2 separate regions of the Homo sapiens genome follow, and region 1 is linked to region 2. A link means that fine-mapping ties the variant in region 2 to the expression of a gene that starts in the linked region. Tissue or cell type: spinal cord. Region 2 holds a variant in brackets; the other region holds the start of a gene. All regions are shown on one strand. Distances are from middle to middle.

Region 1 (8,588 bases), 25 kb after region 2:
AAAGCTTGTATGTAAATGTTCACAGCGGCACTATTCACAATATACAAAAGGGGCCGGGCATGGTGGCTCACGCCTGTAATCTCAGCACTTTGGGAGACCGAGGTGGGCAGATTGCTTGAGGCCAGAAGTTCAAGACCAGCCTGGCCAACATGGTGAAACCCCATCTCCACTGAAAATACACAAAGTACTGGCCGGGCACAGTGGCTCATGCCTGTAACCCTAGCACTTTGGGAGGCCGAGGCGGGTGGATCACCTGAGACCTGGAGTTGGAGACCAGCCTGGCCAACAGGGTTAAACCCCGTCTCTACTAAAAATACAAAAATTAGCCGGGCGTGGCAGGTGCCTGTAATCCCAGCTACTTGGGAGGCTGAGGCAGGAGAATAGCTTGAACCCGGGAGGCGGAGGTTGCAGTGAGCTGAGATCAGGTCAGTGCACTCCAGCCTGGGTGACAGAGTGAGAGTCCGTCTCTAAAGTAAATAAATAAATAAATATTTTTTAAAAATACAAAAATTAGGGGGTGTGGTGGTGCATGCCTGTAGTCCCACTACTTAGGAGGCTGAGGCAGGGGAATCACTTAAACCTGGTAGGCGGAGGTTGCAGTGAGCGGAGATCATATACTGCACTCCAGCCTGGGCAACAGAACGAGATTCTGTCTCAAGCAGACAAACAAACACAATATATACAAGGTAGAAATAAACCAAACGTCCTCAGCAGGTGAATGGATGAACCAAATGCAGTGTGATTTTTCCATTAAAATGAATGAAATTCTGGGGCCAGGCGCGGTGGCTCCTGCGTGTAATCCCAGCACTTTGGGAGGCTGAGGCGGGCGGATCACCTGAGGTCAGGAGTTCAAGACCAGCCTGACCAATATGGCAAAACCCTGCCTCCATGAAAAGTACACAATTAGCTGGGCATGGTGGTGCTGTAATCCCAGCAACTCCAGAGGCTGAGGCAGGAGAATTGCTTGAACCCAGAAGGCGGAAGTTGCAGTGGGCCAAGATCGCGCCATTGCACTCCAGTCTGGGCAACAAGAGTGAAACTCCATCTCAAAACAAATAAATAAAAATAAATAAATAAATAAAAATAGTGACCAGGGTCTTGCTATGTTTCCCAGGCTGGTCTCGAACTCCTGGCCTCAAACCATCCTCCTGCCTCACCGTCTCAAGTAGCCGAGACCACAGGCATGTACCACCATGCCCAGCTTTTAGGATTTTATTGGTATGAAATACCCAGAACAGGCAGATCCACAGAGACAGAAAGTAAATTCATTGTTACTCAGGAGCTGAAGGGATGGGGGAAGGGGAGGTAAATGCTTTATGGATTTGAGATTTTCCATCTGGGGAGTAAAAAGTTCTGGAACTAAACAGCGGTGCTGGTTGTATAATTCCGTGACCGTACTAAGTATCACTTCATACTTTAAAATGGCTAAAATGGTAAGTTTCATGTTATGCATGTTTTCCCACAATAAAAAAAAAAACAAAACTCAGCAGTAGAGAACAATTTAAAAACGGGCAAGAGATGTGAAGATACATTTAACCCACGACAACATGCAAATGGAAACAAGCACCTGGAAAGAGGTTCGGAATCACCCGCCACTGGGGAAATGCAACTAAGACCACAAGGAGGTGTTGCCGCAGAGAGAATGGCTGAAGGTTAAAAATAGCGACTGCAGGGATGTTGACAGTGTGCAGAGAAAGTGAGGCCGGGCGCTGTGGCTCACGCCTGTAATCCCAGTGCTTTGGAAGGCCGAGGCAGGTGGATCACTTGAGGTCAGGAGTTTCAGACCAGCCTGGGCAACATGGTGAAACCCTGTCTCTACTAAAAATATAAAAATTAGCCAGTCATAGTGGCAGGCACCTGTAATCCCAGCTACTTGGAGGGCCGAGGCACAAGAACTGCTTGAAACCGGGAGGCGGAGGTTGCAGTGAGCTGAGATGGCCCCACGGCACTCCAGCCTGGGTGACAGAACGAGACTCCCTCTGAAAAAGAAAGAAAGGAAGGAAAGAAAGGAAGAAAGGAAGAAGAAAGGAAGAAAGGAAGAAAAAGAAAAAAAGAAAGAAAGAAAGAAAGAAAGAAAAAGAAAGAAAGAAAGAAAGAAAGAAAGAAAGAAAGAAAGAAAGAAAGAAAGAAAGAAAAGCAAGCAAGCCAGCAAGCCAGCCAGCCAGCCAGCCCCACATTGCTGGCGGGGCTGTGAAATGATGCAAACGCTGGGGAAAATATTGTGGCTGATTTAACAGACGGATACAGTGCATGACTCGCAACCACAGCAGAACATCAAAGGGCTTGACGGCCATTTCTCCGTCCACTCCATGATGTATAAATGGCTCACAGACACTTGAGAACATGCTCCACATCGCTGGCCATTAGGGAGATGCCAATCAAAACCGCAGCGAGACACCACGTCGCACCCACCGGCATCGTTAGTACGCGACAAACAAAAAGCCACAAAGTAGCAAGTGTTGGCGAGGACAAGAACCGTGTCCCTGCTGCGCTGCTGGGAAGACAGTTTGGCGTTTCCTCAGAATATTTAACACATAATTACTCTGTCACCCAGCAATTCCCTCATAACTATACACCAAGAACGCTTGAAAACGGGATCGGGAAGCGCCGTTTGCACACCCACGTTCACAGCAGCGTTACTCGCCGTCGCCCCAAAGGGGAGGCAGCCCAGGTGTCCATCAAGATGCCCACAGATGAGCGGACGCGGTCGATGCGGTCCCTGCACACAGCGGGACACAGTTCCCCACAAAAGGGAAGGAGATTCCCACACAGGCCAGGCCGCGGCGGCGAAGGCGGAGGATGCTGCGCTGAGAATCCAGCCGGTCTCCAAAGGACAAATCCCGTGAGGCTCCCCCTGCGCGCAGTCCCTGGAAGCGCTGAATCCACAGACAGAAAGTGGACGGGGCGCCGGGGCTGAGGAGGGGAGGGGGCGTTTGATGGGGACAGAGCTTCATTCTGGGAGGACAGGAGAGTCTGAGAACGGATTTTGGGAGGACGGGAGCGTCTGTGAACGGATTTTGGGAGGACGGGAGCGTCTGTGAACGGATTTTGGGAGGACGGGAGCGTCTGTGAACAGATTTTGAGAGGACGGGAGAGTCTGAGAACGGATTTTGGGAGGACGGAAGAGTCTGAGAATGGATTTTTGGAGGACGGAAGAGTCTGAGAACGGATTTTGGGAGGACGGGAGCGTCTGTGAACGATTTTGGGAGGACGGGAGCGTCTGTGAACGATTTTGGGAGGACGGGAGCGTCTGTGAACGATTTTGGGAGGACGGGAGCGTCTGTGAACGGATTTTGGGAGGACGGGAGCGTCTGTGAACGGATTTTGGGAGGACGGGAGCGTCTGTGAACGGATTTTGGGAGGACGGGAAAGTCTGAGAACGGATGGTGGGGATGGATGCACCGAATGATCCTGAATCGCGCACTTCAAAGCAGATAAAATGGCAACACCGGCCCCCCAACAGTCACGCCACGCTGAAGCTGGAGACGAACTCGCCCCAGCAAGGTGCTCCAGGGGCCTCCGGAACTCCGGCCGCAGCCCCTTCCCCGGGGCCCCCCAGTCCCCCCCCAAACCCTCCCCCAAGCCCTCCGGCCCCTCCGCCCCCGCAGGCTCCGAGGCTTCGCGGTGCGGTTCCCTCTGCGGGTCCCAGGCCCGCGCTCCGTTCGCCCCCCAGGCCGGGACGTCCCCCTCCCCCAGCCGGCCGAGGGGCGCCAGCGCGGCGGAGGGGGCGGGAGGCCGGGCCGGGGCGACAGCTGGGGGGGCGGCCCTGACCTTCCCGGGATCGCTGGGCGCGGCCGGGCCGTCCCCTTTCCGGGCGCCGCCATAAAGGGGCCTTGCGGGGGCCCGGGGCCGTGGCCGCAGCGCTCAGCTCCTGCGCCCCGACCCCGCCATGGCCCCCCGGCCCCTCCTGCTGCTGCTGCTGCTCCTCGGGGGCTCCGCCGCGCGCCCCGCGCCCCCCAGGTGAGCCGCCCGCCAGGCCCGCCCGCCCCCCGGGCCCCACCCGCCCCCAGTGCGCCCTGACCCCGACCCCCGACCGCCCGCAGGGCCCGGCGACACTCAGACGGGACGTTCACCAGCGAGCTCAGCCGCCTGCGGGAGGGCGCGCGGCTCCAGCGGCTGCTACAGGGCCTGGTGGGGAAGCGCAGGTGAGGCCGGGTGGGGTGGGGGGTCCTGGCGTGGTGCCCCAGCAGCAACGCGCGACCCCCCAGCTCCAGGACTAACTCTGTTTTGGGGCGGGGGGCAGCGAGCAGGACGCAGAGAACAGCATGGCCTGGACCAGGCTCAGCGCGGGTCTGCTCTGCCCGTCAGGGTCCAACATGCCCATCCTGCAGGCCTGGTGAGCACCCGCCCCACCGCAGACCCCACTCCAGACCCCACCCCAGACCCCTCCTTCTGTCCTGGCCTCCCCGGGTCAGCGCTGGTGGCCACTGGAGGCCCAATTCCAGCAGCGGGGCCGGGGTCTCCAGCCCCAGCCCTCAGACCCTCACGTGCTGTCTCTGCAGGATGCCCCTGGACGGGACCTGGTCTCCCTGGCTGCCCCCTGGGCCTATGGTTTCAGAACCAGCTGGCGCTGCTGCAGAAGGAACCTTGCGGCCCAGATGAGGAAGGAACCCCCTCACCACCTGCCCGGCCCAGGAGCGCAGCTGCATTTGGGGTGGGGGGCAGGATGGGGGAGAGGGGGAGGGGTGGTACTTGGCACCAATAAAGGAGGAATCAGACCCAGACGCTGGGAGTTGTCTGTGTCCACTCAGTGTAATCGAGGCAACCCCTGTGTAGCGGGGCTGAGGGATGGATGGAGGCCCATCCACCCAGGAGGGACTGACCACACCCAGCTGCCCTTTACACCTGCAGGCACGGCGGCCCCTCATCCTTATCTCTGGCATCAGGGCCACCTCCTGTACCTCGACTAAGTACTGCAGGGCCCCGCCCCACCCCTTGTCATCCATTAGGAAACATTCTGGGGCTCGGGGGATCCCGGACACCCTCTCAGCTCCTGCCCGGGGGCCCATGTGGTCAGTGTTTCTGTAAGGGGTAGTGGGGAGGGTGTGAAGGGGCCAGGGGGGCTCAGGCGGGCAGGAAGAGGGGAGGGTGGAGGTGTCACCTGGGGTGCCAGGAATCCACTCTGGCGTGAGGACTCCGGACCCTCTGTCTCGTGTGGCCTCGGACCAGTGGCTTGACCCCTCAGAGCCTGTGGAGCACGGAGCGTGCAGGGCTTGAAGGCGACCATGAGGGCACCGTGCAGGGTTAGGACACTGAGCCCAGCCCCAGCCATGAGAGGCCAGAAGCTTCGGCGCACAGGCCTGGAGGAGGAGAACTCCACCTACCCCTCACGACAGCCACTTCCTCGCCCCGACCCTACCCAGTGGCCTCTCCCTAGAGCTGGGGGCTTCTGGGGGGCCAATGAAAAGAGCAGGGCAAGTGTCGAGTCTCACCTCACCCCCTCTGTCGGGCACCAGGGCCCCCCAGGAACTCCCAGCTGCCCCTCACAGCCCCGCCTTAGCCTCAGTCACTAAGGCCCTGTCCAGCCCCGCCCTGAGAAGCCGACTTGTCTCTGGGGCAGGCAGGGGTGTCCCCAGGACACAGTGAGGAGAGCCTTTTCCTTCAGAACCTGCTGTCAGGCAGGGAGGGAGGTGCTCCCTGGGGAACACCCGGGTTCTGAGCCTCAAGGGGTGGCCTTAGGAACTTTGCCTGAGGGAGATCTTAGGGGAGGAGCCAAGCCAGGGCAGCCTGGGCTAGGGAGGCAGGTTCCAGACACCCCGACACCAAGGGCCGAGCCCCCGCCCCCAGCCCCCAGCTTCTCTCCCACACCCTAGCCCTGCCCCTGCCCTGCCCCTACCCCCACGGCACCCATGAGCCGCTCTCCAGTCCCTTCTGCCCTGTGCCTCGGTGCCTGTGACCTGAGCCCCCTGGTTGACCCCTGCACTCAGTCCAACTTGGGCCAAACGACTGCCCCTCCTTCTGGCAGTGGGCTGGACCAGCCGGCCAGCGGGAGCCCCCTTGGCAGAAGCCGGTCGTAAAGGATCATAAACTGGGCGGCGTCTGGCTGGGGCGAAGGTCGCTGAGGTAGGAACTGCGCCAGTCCTAGACGCCAGACCCGCTCAGACCCTCCTGCCAGGTGACAGCCGCCAAGATGGGGTCTTGGGCCCTGCTGTGGCCTCCCCTGCTGTTCACCGGGCTGCTCGTCCGACCCCCGGGGACCATGGCCCAGGCCCAGTGTATGTGCGGGCAGGGGTAGGTGGGGCACGGGCGGCGGGGAGCCAGGGGCTGGGAGGCACTGATCCCTCCTCTGCAACCTTACAGACTGCTCTGTGAACAAGGACATCTTTGAAGTAGAGGAGAACACAAATGTCACCGAGCCGCTGGTGGACATCCACGTCCCGGAGGGCCAGGAGGTGACCCTCGGAGCCTTGTCCACCCCCTTTGCATTTCGGATCCAGGGAAACCAGCTGTTTCTCAACGTGACTCCTGATTACGAGGTGTGGGCGGCAGGCGGGCGGGATATGGGGGTCCCGGGAGAAGGGCACCTGCATCCTCAGGCCACACCTCCCTTGGGGGCCTAGGAGTTCTATGCCTGCGGGCATCCACTGACACCCATGCTTGGTGGTGCCTGCCCTAGAAGGCTGGGCCATTTCGGGATGAAGCTGCCTGGGCCCACACCCTCAGCACTGACCACTGATGATGGGGACCCTGGGCCAGCGCCTGCCCACTTGGCCTCAGTCTCCCCACCTGTGGGGCAGGACGGTGACTGCAGACCTGTCTACATCCACAGGAGAAGTCACTGCTTGAGGCTCAGCTGCTGTGTCAGAGCGGAGGCACATTGGTGAGTCCCCGCCCCGCTCTCCCCGCCCCACCCGGCCACCTCTGCTGGGCTCTGCCCTGCCGGTCCAGGACCAGTCTTTGATGACGTCAGCTAGGGTGTGGTTTCAAATTCCACCCCCCCGAGGGTGATGCCCACATTTCCTCCAGTCCAGACTCTGCCCTGAGCTGTGGAGTCCCCGTCACTGACCCCTTGTCCAGCAGACACCCCATCCAGTGTGCCCAAGACTCCCACCCACTCCCTCAACCATCCACAAGGGAGGCACCTTTATCCTGCCAGTCACGGGGACCACCTTGGTTCCCACTCGCCCTCCCTCCCCACGTGTCCCCCACAGCCCCCCACTGGTAAATCTGTTGGCTGTGCCCCAGCTCGACCCAGAAATCCAGAGTCTGTCCACCTCCAGTCCCATCAGGGCCGGGACACCAGCACTCATTTTGGGAAACTTCCAGCTGGCCCACCGGCTTCCCTGTTGCCCTTTGCTGGCCCCAGTCCACTCCACGTGGCAGAACAGCCCCTGTGGATGTTGTAAACCAAGGCTGCCCAGCCCACCCCAGCCCTCCACGGCTCCTTTCTCACCGAGTCAAACCCAGACATACTGTGCAGAGGCTCCACTGCAGCCTCAGGGCTCCCGCCAGGCACGCCCCTCCCTCACCGGCTCAGGACTGCAGTCTTCAGAGAAATCCCAACCACCCTATGCCCTGTTGCATCCCAGCCCCGCTCCCCCAACATCCTGCTTCTTGACCGGCGGCATTTTTTTCGGCTTTATTAAGGAAAATTGCAGAATCCTGAGGCCAGCACAGGCCCCCTCACCTACCAGCACACAGCAGGCTCTGTGCCCTCCATGCACCACGGCACGTCACCTGCACATATCTTGGGATATGTCTCTGAAAGAGAGAGACTCTTTTTTGAGACAGAGTCTCACTCTGTCACCCAGGCTGGCGTGCAGTGGAGCGATCTCGGCTCACTGCAACTTCCGCCTCCCGGGTCCAAGCGATTCTCCTGCCTCAGCCTCTTGAGTAGCTGGGATTACAAGCATGCGCCACCACGGCCGGCTAATTTTTGTATTTTTAGTAGCGACGGGGTTTCTCCATGTTGGTCAGGCTGGTCTCAAACTCCTGACCTCAGGTGATCTGCCCGCCTCGGCCTCCCAAAGTGCTGGGATTACAGGTGTGAGCCACCGTGCCCGGCTGACAATCCAGTTTCTTCACAAATAAATCTCCAGGAAAAAAGATGGGAGAAAGGGAAAGGTACAGATGAACAGAAACTCAGGAGAATTACCAACCAGGTCCATAATGTGGGCCCTGATTCAAACAAACAATTGTTAAAAAACCCTTCAGAGACCACGGGGAATGTGGCATCCTGGACATTTGAGGTAGAAAGTGACCGCTTTTCCCAGGTGTGACAACGACATTGTGGTTATGTTCTAAAAAGAAGAGTCCTGGCTGGGCGCCGTGGCTCACACCTGGAATCCCAGCACTTTGGGAGGCCGAGGCGGGTAGATCACCTGAGGTCAAGAGTTCGAGACCAATGTGGCCAAAATGGTGAAACCCCGTCTCTACTAAAAATACAAAAATTAGCTGGGCATGGTGGCAGGCACCTGTAATCCCAGCACTTTGGGAGGCCGAGGTGGGCAGAGGCCGAGGCAGGAGAATCGCTTGAACCTGGGAGGCAGAGGTTGCAGTGAGCCGAGATCACACCACTGTACTCCAGCCTGGGTGACGACAGAGCGAGACTGTATCCAAAAAAACCCAAAAACCAAAAAACAAAAACA
Region 2 (10,740 bases):
TCTAATTCAGACCCCAAAGCTCCTTCTAACCTTCCTAGAACGTTATTTTTCAGTTTAAAAAAAAAAAAAAGTTTTGCAAAGGGCATACCGCGAAAGGCCCAAGTGGTTGAAAGTCCCAGCTGAGGCTGAAGAGGCGCCTGCGAGGCAACAGGACAGGCTTCCCGTTCAGTTCAGGGGTGCTGTCCTCCAGGAACTATGCTGGGGGGCAAGTACAGGACGTCCTGGTGTGTGGTGCACAGGGACTGCTGGACACGGAGACCCGTGCCCTTCTCAGCGTGGGGGCCGCTCCCCGGGACAGTGACCACGCTCCCGCCAGCCTCCCACCCCACCTGACCTCTGTCTGTGAGGGGCTGGACCAGGGTCCTGCCTGGCCCGGCCATCCACAGAGCAACCCAGAATGTTAATAAAGCCTGCAGAAGCTGTGTTCTCCTTCGAGAAGCTTCTCTGTGGTTACAGACTTTTTAAGAAATATTTTGTCGGCTGGGCTTGGTGGCTCATGCCTGTAATCCCAGCATTTTGGGAGGCCAAGGCAGGCGGATCACCTGAGGTCAGGAGTTTCCGAGACCAGCCTGGCCAACAGGGCAAAACCCCGTCTCTACTAAAAATACAAAAATTAGCCAGGCATGGTGGCAAGCGCCTATAATCCCAGCTACTTGAGAGGCTAAGGTGGAAGCATTGCTCGAATCTGGAAGGTGGTGGTTGCAATGAGCTGAGATCGTGCCACTGCACTCCAGGCTGGGCGACAGAGCGAGACTCCATCTCAAAAAAAAAAAAAAAGTTTGTCATTTAAAGTAGAGGCACAGGCCAGGCGCGGTGGCTCATGCCTGTAATCCCAGCACTTTGGGGGGCCGACTCAGGTGGATCATTTGAGGTCAGGAGCTCGAGACCAGCCTGACCAATATGGTGAAACCCCATCTGTACTAAAAATACAAAAAAATTAGCCAGGCGTGGTGGTCCGTGCCTGTAGTCCCAGCTGTGGGGAGGCTGAGGCACAAGAATCACTTAAACCCAGGAGGTGGAGGTTGCAGTGAGCCGAGATTGCGCCACTACACTCCAGCCTGGGCGACAGAGTGAGACTCCATCTCAAAAAAATAATAATAATAATAAATAAATAAAGTAGAGGCAGGGGGCAACCTAAATTAGCACCAAAATTCCTCCTAATGCTCCTGTTTTCTGAAGTGAGTGACTGAATGTCGGAGCTCTGAATGTCTTACAACTGGAAAAATGTTAAAGATCACGTTTGCGAAGGAGGGAGGCAAGCATCAGAACAGAACCTCGGAGCAGGTCTGCACGCGTGCAGGGGCCGTGGGGCCGCGCTGGAGTCGTTTCCTGTGCTGCTCTGTGCTGCTCACAGACGCTGCCACTCACCCACTGGCCACGGCCCCTCCCGCAGCTGCGGATGATCTGGGCGCATAGCGGGCGTGCAGGTCGCGGCGCCAAGGCCTCTCCTAGGCCCAGTGGTCTTCTCCGTCTCAGAGAGCATTGACGGCGGAGCTCACAACTGTCAAGCACCTTAGTCATGCCGCAAACATTAATCATTGACAGCATGTTGACCTATGCGCTGATTAAAAAGAAAAGCTCCAATAATGTAATTCCAGGAGAAAGTACACAAACCTCTGGTGGCATCTTTTCAATCCACCACAGAAACCAGCTCAGGTGGGGCCGTGGGGGTGTTGGCTGGGGCACCGCCGCAGCAGTTTGGGACACATGCCTGCCACGGTGCGCCCAGGCTGATGCCCACAGCCCTGCTCAGGAGTGTTGGGAGCGGTGGACTCCTGAGTTTGATTTTCTGTGCTGGCCTGGCTGGAGTGAAGCTCCTTGGAGTTTGGAGAAAGATTTCCATGCTGATTTCCCTTTGTTTTTGTTTGTTTGTTTGTTTGTTTGTTTTGGAGACAGTCTTGCTCTGTCGCCCAGGCTGGAGTGCAATGGTACAATCTCGGGGTTTCACCGTGTTAGCCAGGATGGTCTCGATCTCCTAACTTCGTGATCCGCCCACCTCAGCCTCCTAAAGTGCTGGGATTACAGGCATGAGCCACTGCATCCGGCCCTGATTTCCCTTTTTTTTTGAGATGGGAGTCTCGCTCTGTCACCCAGGCTGGAGTGCAGTAGTGCAATCTCGGTTCACTGCAACCTCCGCCTCCTGGGTGCAAGCTATTCTCCCACCTCAGCCTCCCAGGTAGCTGGGATTACAGGTGGCCACCACCACACCCAGCTAATTTTTGTATTTTTAGTAGAGACTGGGTTTCGCAACGTTGCCTGTGCTGAACTCCTGACCTCAGGTGATCCACCCGCCTCGGCTGCCCAAAGTCCTGGGATTACAGGTATGAGCCGCTGCTCCCGGCCCATACTGGTCTTCCAGTGAATGAATGTAGGGGGCAAACTGCACTGAGGCCAGGAAAGAGCTGATTCTGGAGGTGACAAGAACGTTCTGAGCAGCACTGGGGCAGAGGCGCAGTCAAGAGTCCAATGGGAGCTGGGCGCAGTGGCTCACGCCTGTAATCCCAGCACTTTGGGAGGCCGAGGCAGGTGGATCACGAGGTCAGAGGTTCAAGACCAGCCTGACCAACATGGTGAAACCCTGTCTCTACTAAAAATACACAAATTAGCTGGGCGTGGTGTCAGGCACCTATCATCCCAGACTCAGGAGGCTGAGACAGGAGAATTGCTTGAACCCAGGAGGCGGAAGTTGCAGTGAGCTGAGATCGCACCACGGCACTCCAGCCTGGGCGACAGAGTGAGACTCCATCTCAAAAAAAAAAAAAAAAAAAAAGGGGGTCCAATGGGGGGAACTTGGGGCCTCCTGCCTGCACCTGCCTCTGTCCCCGGTGTCTCAGGGGCTCTCCACGGCCACGTCACTGACTGGCCTGTTGTGTCCTTCTTGCAGCAGTCCTGCGTTAACTGCGGCCGGGAGGCTATGAGCGAGTGCACCGGCTGCCACAAGGTCAACTACTGCTCCACCTTCTGCCAACGCAAGGTAGGTCTCACCTACACCAGGCTCAGTGCCCCCGCCTCCTCCCTCGCTACGAAGACCCCTGGGTGGCCCTCCCTCCCCTTGTGCTCCTGGTGCCACACCTGACTCCCCTCCCTGTCCCTCCCTCTGGGAATCCGGGGCTCCTGCCTGGCTCCGTGAAGACCCTGCAGAAGGCTCACATGTGACATGGCCAGGTAGTGCTCTCATGTGAGGCCCCACAGTTGGTGGCCGGAAACCCTGAGGGCTGCTGGTCAGTGCTTCCCAGCCCTCCACACCCCTGCACAGCCACGCAAGAGAGACTGTCCACAGTTCCATTATTGAGCCCTCCACACCCCTGCAGAGCCACGTGAGAGAGACTGTCCACAGTTCCTCTATTATTCAGCCCTCCACACCCCTGCAGAGCCACGCAAGAGAGACTGTCCACAGTTCCTCTATTATTGAGCCCTCCACACCCCTGCAGAGCCACGCGAGAGAGACTGTCCACAGTTCTTCTATTATTGAGCCCTCCACACCCCTGCAGAGCCACGCGAGAGAGACTGTCCACAGTTCCTCTATTATTGAGCCCTCCACACCCCTGCAGAGCCACGCGAGAGAGAGCGTCCACAGTTCCTCTATTATTGAGCCCTCCACACCCCTGCAGAGCCACGCGAGAGAGAGACTGTCCACAGTTCCTCTATTATTGAGCCCTCCACACCCCTGCAGAGCCACGCGAGAGACAGCGTCCACAGTTCCTCTATTATTCAGCCCTCCGCTCCACAGAAATTCAAGAGAAATTTTGTAGGCTACAAACGGTAGTTCAGGATTGTATAACTTTGTCTACCATAATCAGAGTACTCGGGAGCATTTAGTCACTCTTTTTTTTTTTTTTTTTTTTTTTTTTTGAGACAGAGTCTCATTCTGTCACCCAGGCTGGAGTGCAGTGGTGCGATCTTGGCTCGCTGCAACCTCTGCCTCCCGGGTTCAAGCGATTCTCCTGCCTCAGCCTCCCGAGTAGCTGGGATTACAGGCATGCGCCACCATACCTGGCTAATTTTTGTATTTTTAGTAGAGACGGGGTCTCACCACGTTGGGCAAGCTGGTCTCGAACTCCTGACCTCAGGTGATCCACCCACCTTGGCCTCCCAAAGTGCTGGGATTTAGAGGTGTGAGCTACTGTTCCCAGCAGCTTTACTAATCTTTTTGATGGTTTTTTTTTCTCATATTTATGAGAGATGCTGGTCTATATTTTGTCCTGTGATGTCTTTGTTTCATGTTGGTGTCAGAGCAACACTGGCCTTTCAGATCAATTGGGAAGTGTGCCCTTCTGCCCTCCTTCTCTATTTTCTTTTTGAGACAGTTTTGCTCTGTAGCCCAGGCTGGAGTGCAGTGGCAAGATCTCGGCTCACTGCAACCTCTGCCTCCCGGGTTCAAGTGATTCTCCTACCTCAGCCTCCCGAGTAGCTGGGATTACAGGCATGCACCTCCACCCCCGGCTAATTTTTATGTTTTTAGTAGAGACAGGGTTTCACCATGTTGCCCAGGCTGGTCTCAAACTTCTGGCCTCAAGTGATCTGCCTGCCTCGGCCTCCCAAATTGCTGGGATTGCAAGTGTGAGCCACGGCACCCAGCCTGTGTTTCATCTTTATTCAGTTCGAATATTTTATGCAGTTGAAAATATTTGCCGTGTGATTTTTTTCTGTGACCTATGAGTTATTTGGAAGTGTGTGCTGGATTCAGGAGTAGATCTAAAAAAGAAGTATGCTAATTTCAAATATTTCTGGATTTCTTAAATGTACCTTTATAATTAATTTCTACTTTAATTACATTGTGGTTCAAGAACATACTTAGTGTTTTTCAGTACCTTTAAATTTATTGAGATTTGTGTTAGGGCCTAGCGTATGGTCTTATCATGGAGAGTGTTGCTTGTATATTCTGCTCTGTTGGGTGGAGTATTAGATATCAGTTAGGTTGGTTGATAGTATTGTTCAACTCTTTCATATTCTCACTGATTTTCTCTATTTGTTCTACCCCTTATTTAGAGTGAAGTGTTGAACTCTCCAGCTATTACTGTTGAATTATCTGGTTTTTGTTTTTGTTTTTGAGACGGAGTCTCGCTCTGTCGCCCAGGCTGGAGTGTAGTGGCGCCATCTCAGCTCACCGCAAGCTCCGCCTCCCAGGTTCACGCCATTCTCCTGCCTCAGCCTCCCGAGTAGCTGGGACCACAGGCACCCGCCACCACGCCCGGCTGATTTTTTGTATTTTTAGTAGAGACAGGGTTTCACTGTGTTAGCCAGGATGGTCTCGATCTCCTGACCTTGTGATCTGCCCTCCTCAGTCTCCTTTCAAAGTGCTGGGATTACAGGCGTGAGCCACCGTGCCCAGCTGAATTATCTGTTTTTATCTGCCATTATGCCTGTTTTTGCTTCATTTATTTTGGGTCTCTGTTGTTAGGTGCATGTATGTTTAGTTTATAATTATCATTCCTGATGAATTAGCTCTTTTATCATTATAAAACATCCTTCTTTGTCTCAATAAGTTTTTTATTTTTTATTTAATTTTTTTTTTTTTTTTCTTACAGAGATGGAGTCTTACTATGTTGACCAGCCTGGTCTCCATCTCCTGGCTTCGGGCGATCCTCCCATGTCAGCCTCCCAAAGTGCTAGGATTATAGGCATGAGGCACTACACCAGCCAACAGAAGTTTTTATATTAAAATTTACTTTTTCTAGCTGGGCACAGTGGCTCACGCCTGTCATCCCAGCACTTTGGGAGGCTGAGGCAGGTGGATCACCGGTCGGGAGTTTGAGACCAGCTTGGCTAACATGGTAAGACCCCATCTCTACTAAAAACACAAAAATTAGCCAGGCGTGGTGGCGCGTGCCTGTAATCCCAGCTACTAGCGGGGCTGAGGCAGGAGGATTGCTTGAACCTGGGAGGCGGAGGTTGCAGTAAGCCAAGATCACTCCACTGCACTCTAGTCTGGGCAACAGAGCGAGACTCCATCTCAAAAAAAAAAAATTACCTTTTCTGATAGTAGCATAGACACTCCACCTGTCTTATGGTGAATGTTTGCATCTTTTACTTTTGAGACAGAGTCTCACTCTGTCACCCAGACTGGAGCGCAGTGGCATGATCTTGACTCACGGCAGCCTCTACAGATACACGCCCCACGCCCAGCTAATTCTTTGTATTTTTAGTTGAGACGGGGTTTCGCCATTTTGCCCAGGCTGGTCTCGACCCCTTGGACTCAAGTGTTCCACCCCCGCTTGGCCTCCCAAAGTGCTGGGATGACAGGCATGAGTCACTGCGCCCAGCCTGCATCTTTTTAAAAAAAACCTTTTTGGCTGGGTGCAGTGGCCCACACCAGTCATCCCAACACTTTGGGAGGCCAAGAGGGGAGGATCTCTTGAGCCCAGGGCCAGCCTGGCCAACAAAGCGAGACCCTGTTTCTATTTTTTAATTAAATAAACATATAAATAAACAAACATCTTGTTACTTCTAATTTTGTGTCCTTGGCTCTTAAGCATTCCCTTAGAGACAGAATGTGGTTGGATCTTAGGTTTTAATCTAGTCTGATAGTCTCTGCCTTTTTTTTTTTTTTTTTTTTTTTTTTGAGACGGACTGTCACTCTGTCCCCCAGGCTGGAATGCAGTGGCTCCATCTCCACTCACTGCAACCTCCATCTCCTGGGTTCAAGTGATTCTCATAGCTCAGCCTCCCAAGTAGCTGGGATTACAGGCTCCTGCCACCACACTCAGCTAATTTTTGTATTTTTAATAGAGACGGGTTTCACCATGTTGGCCAGGCTGGTCTCAAACTCCTGACCTCAAGAGATTCACCCGCCTCAGCCTCCCAAAGTGGTGGGATTACAGGTGTGAACCACCACACTAGTCTCTGCCTTTTGATTGGAGTGTTTAATCTACTTTTTTGTTTTGTTTTTGTTTTTGTTTTTGTTTTTGTTTTTTAGACAATCTCACTCTGTCGCCAGGCTGGAGTGCAATGGCACGATCTCAGCCCACTGCAACCTCAACGTCCCGGGTTCAAGTGATTTCCCTTCCTCAGCCTCCTGAGTAGCTGGGATTATAGGCATGAGCCACCACGTCCAACTAATTTTTGTGTTTTTAGTAGAGATGGGGTTTCTCCGTGTTGGCAAGGCTGGTCTCGAACTCCTGACCTCAGGTGATCCACTCGCCTCAGCCTCCCAAAGTTCTAAGATTACAGGTGTGAGCCACCGCACTGGAACTCGGCCTGTTTTGTTTTTTGAATTGAGACAGAGTATCACTTTGTTGCCCAGGCTGGAGTGCACTGGCGTAATCTCGGCTCACTGCAGCCTCCACCTCCTGGGTTTAAGGGATTCTCGTGCCTCATTCTCCCGAGTAACTGGGACTGCAGGAGTGTGCCATCAGACCCGGCTAATTTTTGTACTTTTAGTAGACACAGGGTTTCACCATGTTGGTCAGGCTGGTCTTGAGCTCCTGACCTCAAGTGATCCGCCCGCCTCGGCCTCCCAAACTGCTGGGATTATAGGTGTGAGCCACCACACCCAGCTGTTTTGTTTTTTTTTTTAAGTGGGGTCTCTCTCTGTCACCCAGGCCAGAGTGCAGTGGCACAATCTCAGCTCAGTGCAACCTCCGCTTCCCGGGTTCAAGCAATACTCCTCCTTCAGCCTCCCAAGTAACTGGGATTACAGGCACCCGCCACCATGCCCGTTTTTGTTGTTGTTGTTGTGTGTGTGTGTGATGGAGTCTCGCACGGTTGCCCAGGCTAGAGTGCAGTGGCGCAATCTCGGCTCACTGCAGCCTCTGCCTCCCGGGTTCAAGCGATTCTCCTGCCTCAGCCTCCCAAGTAGTTGGGATTACAGGCATGCACCACCATGCCAGGCTAATTTTTGTATTTTTCGTAGAGAGAGGGTTTTGCCATGTTGGCCAGGCTGGTCTTGAACTCCTGGGCTCAAGTAACCCTCCCACCTTGGCCTCCCAAAGTGCTGGGATTATAGGCATGAGCCACTGCGCAAAACCTAATCTCATGTTTAATGTAATTATCAATGTGAGTGGATTTGTGTTTATATTTGCAGTTTATGTTTCATGTTTTGCTCCTCTGTTCTTTCACTGCCTTCTTTTCTGTTAAATGTGTATTTTCTAGTTGTGTTTTCTAGTGTACCACTTCAATTCTTTTGTTGAACATTTTTAAACAGTATCTTTAAAGTTGTTATTTTCTTACTGCTATAGGTATTACAATATACATTTTAATTTATCTCAGTTTCAGTAGGAGGATAGAATTTCCTCAAGCAGGGAAAGTGTACTGCAGAGGCTGAGTGTATACATTCCTGGCAAACACTATTTGGGCCCCAATATAAGCACTTACTGAGCTCCTTTCACCTACAGAACGAACACATCCCGTTCTTTTAAAAGCTGCCTTCCAGCCGGACCTCCAGCCCAGGACACCCTGTCCTCAAGCCTCCCTCAGATCCTGTTCTTTAAAAAGCTGCCTTCAGCTGGGCACGGTGGCTCACGCCTGTAATCCCAGCACTTTGGGAGGCCGAGGCGGGCGGATCACGAGGTCAGGAGATCGAGACCATCCTGGCTAACATGGTGAAACCCCGTCTCTACTAAAAATACAAAAAAATTAGCTTGGCGTGGTGGTGGGCGCCTGTAGTCCCAGGTACTCGGGAGGCTGAGGCAGGAGAATGGCATGAACCCGGGAGGCGGAGCTTGCAGTGAGCCGAGATCGTGCCA[C/G]AGCACTCCAGCCTGGGAGACAAAGGGAGACTCCGTCTCAAAAAAAAAAAAAAAAGGCAGTGATAATTTTAAAAATTAATTGTAGAGGACTTGGTATGTACACAAAAGTATACACGAGTTTATGCATGTTATGAAGCCCCAACAGGAATCCCCTGCTCCCAGCACCGCCTGGGTCAAGTCCACCCACCTGCTCCCAGCACCGCCTGGGTCAAGTCCACCCACCTGCTCCCAGCACCGCCTGGGTCAAGTCCACCCACCTGCTCCCAGCACCGCCTGGGTCAAGTCCACCCACCTGCTCCCAGCACCGCCTGGGTCAAGTCCACCCACCTGCTCCCAGCACCGCCTGGGTCAAGTCCACCCACCTGCTCCCAGCACCGCCTGGGTCAAGTCCACCCACCTGCTCCCAGCACCGCCTGGGTCAAGTCCACCCACCTGCTCCCAGCACTGCCTGGATTGAGTCACCTACGTGCTGTGGTGGCAACACTTTTCTTTTAATCCTTAACTTTGGAAAATGTGAGACGTGCACATGAGTTGGATCGCCCAGGAGAGGCCCGTCGCCCTCACCTGTATCAGCTGCTTTAGCGCCTGCCCTCCTGGCTTGTCCCCCTCTCTCTTTGGGCTGAGGGCTGAGCATTTTAAAGCAAGCCCCACGCATCATTATTTTCATTTGTGAGGCCTGGATCACTGTAAGTCAGATTTGGATTGTGTTTTAATTGGATTTTTAGTCACTGTTTTTATTTCATTACTTATTTTTGGTTTTTATTTGTTCGTTTGTTTTTGGTTTTGTTTCTGTTTTTGAGACAGGGTCTGGCTCTGTCACCCAGGCTGGAGTGCAGCGGCGCGATCTTGGCTCACTGCAACCTCCACTTCCCAGGTTCAAGCGATTCTCCTGCCTCAGCCTCCCTAGTAGCTGGGGATTACAGGCACCCGCCACCACGTCCGGCTAATTTTTGTATTTTTAGCAGAGACGGGGTTTCACCATGTTGTTCAGGCTGGTCTTGAACTCCTGACCTCATGATCTGCCTGCCTTGGCCTCCCAAAGTGCTGAGATTACTGGCATGAGCCACCGTACCCAGCCTATTTTAGGTTTTCTATAGACAGGGTCTCGCTTTGTCACCCAGGCTGCAGTCCAGTGGTGCCATCACGGCTCACTACAGCCTTGATCTCCTGGCTCAAGTGATCCTCCTGCCTCTGTCTCCCAAGTAGCTTGGACCACAGGCATGAGCCACCACACCCAGCTAATTTTAAAACATTTTTTTTTTTTTATAGAGATAGGGTTTTGCTATGTTGCTCAGGCTGGTCTCCAACCCCTGACCTCAAGTGACCTCAACCTCCCGAAGTCATTGTTTTTACAGTCTGTGATGTTGGCTTTTCTCATTTATTTGTATCAGGCACTTTCATTGTTAGCTTCTTGTGAATTTAACCATTTTTTTCCGTTTTTCAAAAACTGAAACGCTAACTTCTAATTCTGGCTTTTCAGATAATGATTTTTTTTTCAAAAGTGTTTTAGCATTATACTGTAAGAAGCATCACATTGATGTTTAAGATGGAAAAATTTGCTTTAAAAAAGAACTGAGTAGTTCTGATTTTAAAAGTCAACCCTGGGCCTTTGCCTCTTTGCTGGAAGAACCTGATGGAAGCTTCTGTAGCTCAGAGTCAACACTGATGTGCGCCCTCTCTCCCTCCATCTGCACAGGCCCCAGGGAGTGGCTCAAACCTGTAGACCAGAGAAGGAAGCATCTAGAACTCCTGGGGGCCTTGTCCGCCGCCCACATCCTCTCACGGGGGGCAGCTCCCATGAGGGGTGCAGGCCCCTCACCCCACACAGAGTCTCGGCAGGAACCGGAACCCTTCCTGGTTGCCCCAGAGTGGAGGCCCGGGAGGGGCGGGCGGTGGGTCTGCACCCGATGCTGCAGTTTGCTGATGTATGTGCTTTCATGCTATGTAGATTTATAGTCTATTACCAGGTAATTTTAATTTTTTTTTTTTTTTTTTTTTTGAGACGTAGTCTCACTCTGTCGCCCGGGCTGGAGTGCCGTGGCACAATCTTGGCTTA

Which allele goes with the higher level. Alleles are on the strand shown, and positions count from the first base shown. SD is a standard deviation of normalised expression in the study named.
For the expression in spinal cord of the gene that starts at base 3,852 in region 1, G is the low allele of the variant in region 2 and C is the other (moderate effect, 0.49 SD a copy in GTEx).

The links. PIP is the estimated chance that this variant, and not a neighbour inherited with it, causes the effect. A credible set is the group of variants that fine-mapping cannot tell apart.
Region 1: it holds the start of SCT, and the variant in region 2 is the best candidate, but not a certain one, in a credible set for the expression of SCT in spinal cord (GTEx, PIP 0.80).

What each region holds. Positions count from the first base shown.
Region 1 is chr11:622,445-631,032 of GRCh38, reverse strand. It overlaps SCT (secretin), which reads left to right and starts at 3,852. Exons shown (of 4, transcript NM_021920.4): 1 at 3,852-3,960; 2 at 4,044-4,145; 3 at 4,244-4,336; 4 at 4,503-4,724. The coding sequence starts at 3,890. The coding sequence ends at 4,602. CDHR5 (cadherin related family member 5) reads left to right here and starts at 6,078. Exons shown (of 15, transcript NM_021924.5): 1 at 6,078-6,215; 2 at 6,301-6,476; 3 at 6,770-6,820. The coding sequence starts at 6,131. RefSeq lists a silencer at 3,930-4,224 and an enhancer at 3,818-4,318.
Region 2 is chr11:646,196-656,935 of GRCh38, reverse strand. It overlaps DEAF1 (DEAF1 transcription factor), which reads left to right. Exons shown (of 12, transcript NM_021008.4): 11 at 2,885-2,974. LOC124902603 (a long non-coding RNA gene) reads right to left here and starts at 1,913. Exons shown (of 2, transcript XR_007062543.1): 1 at 1,369-1,913. The variant C/G (reference allele first, on the strand shown) is at 8,685.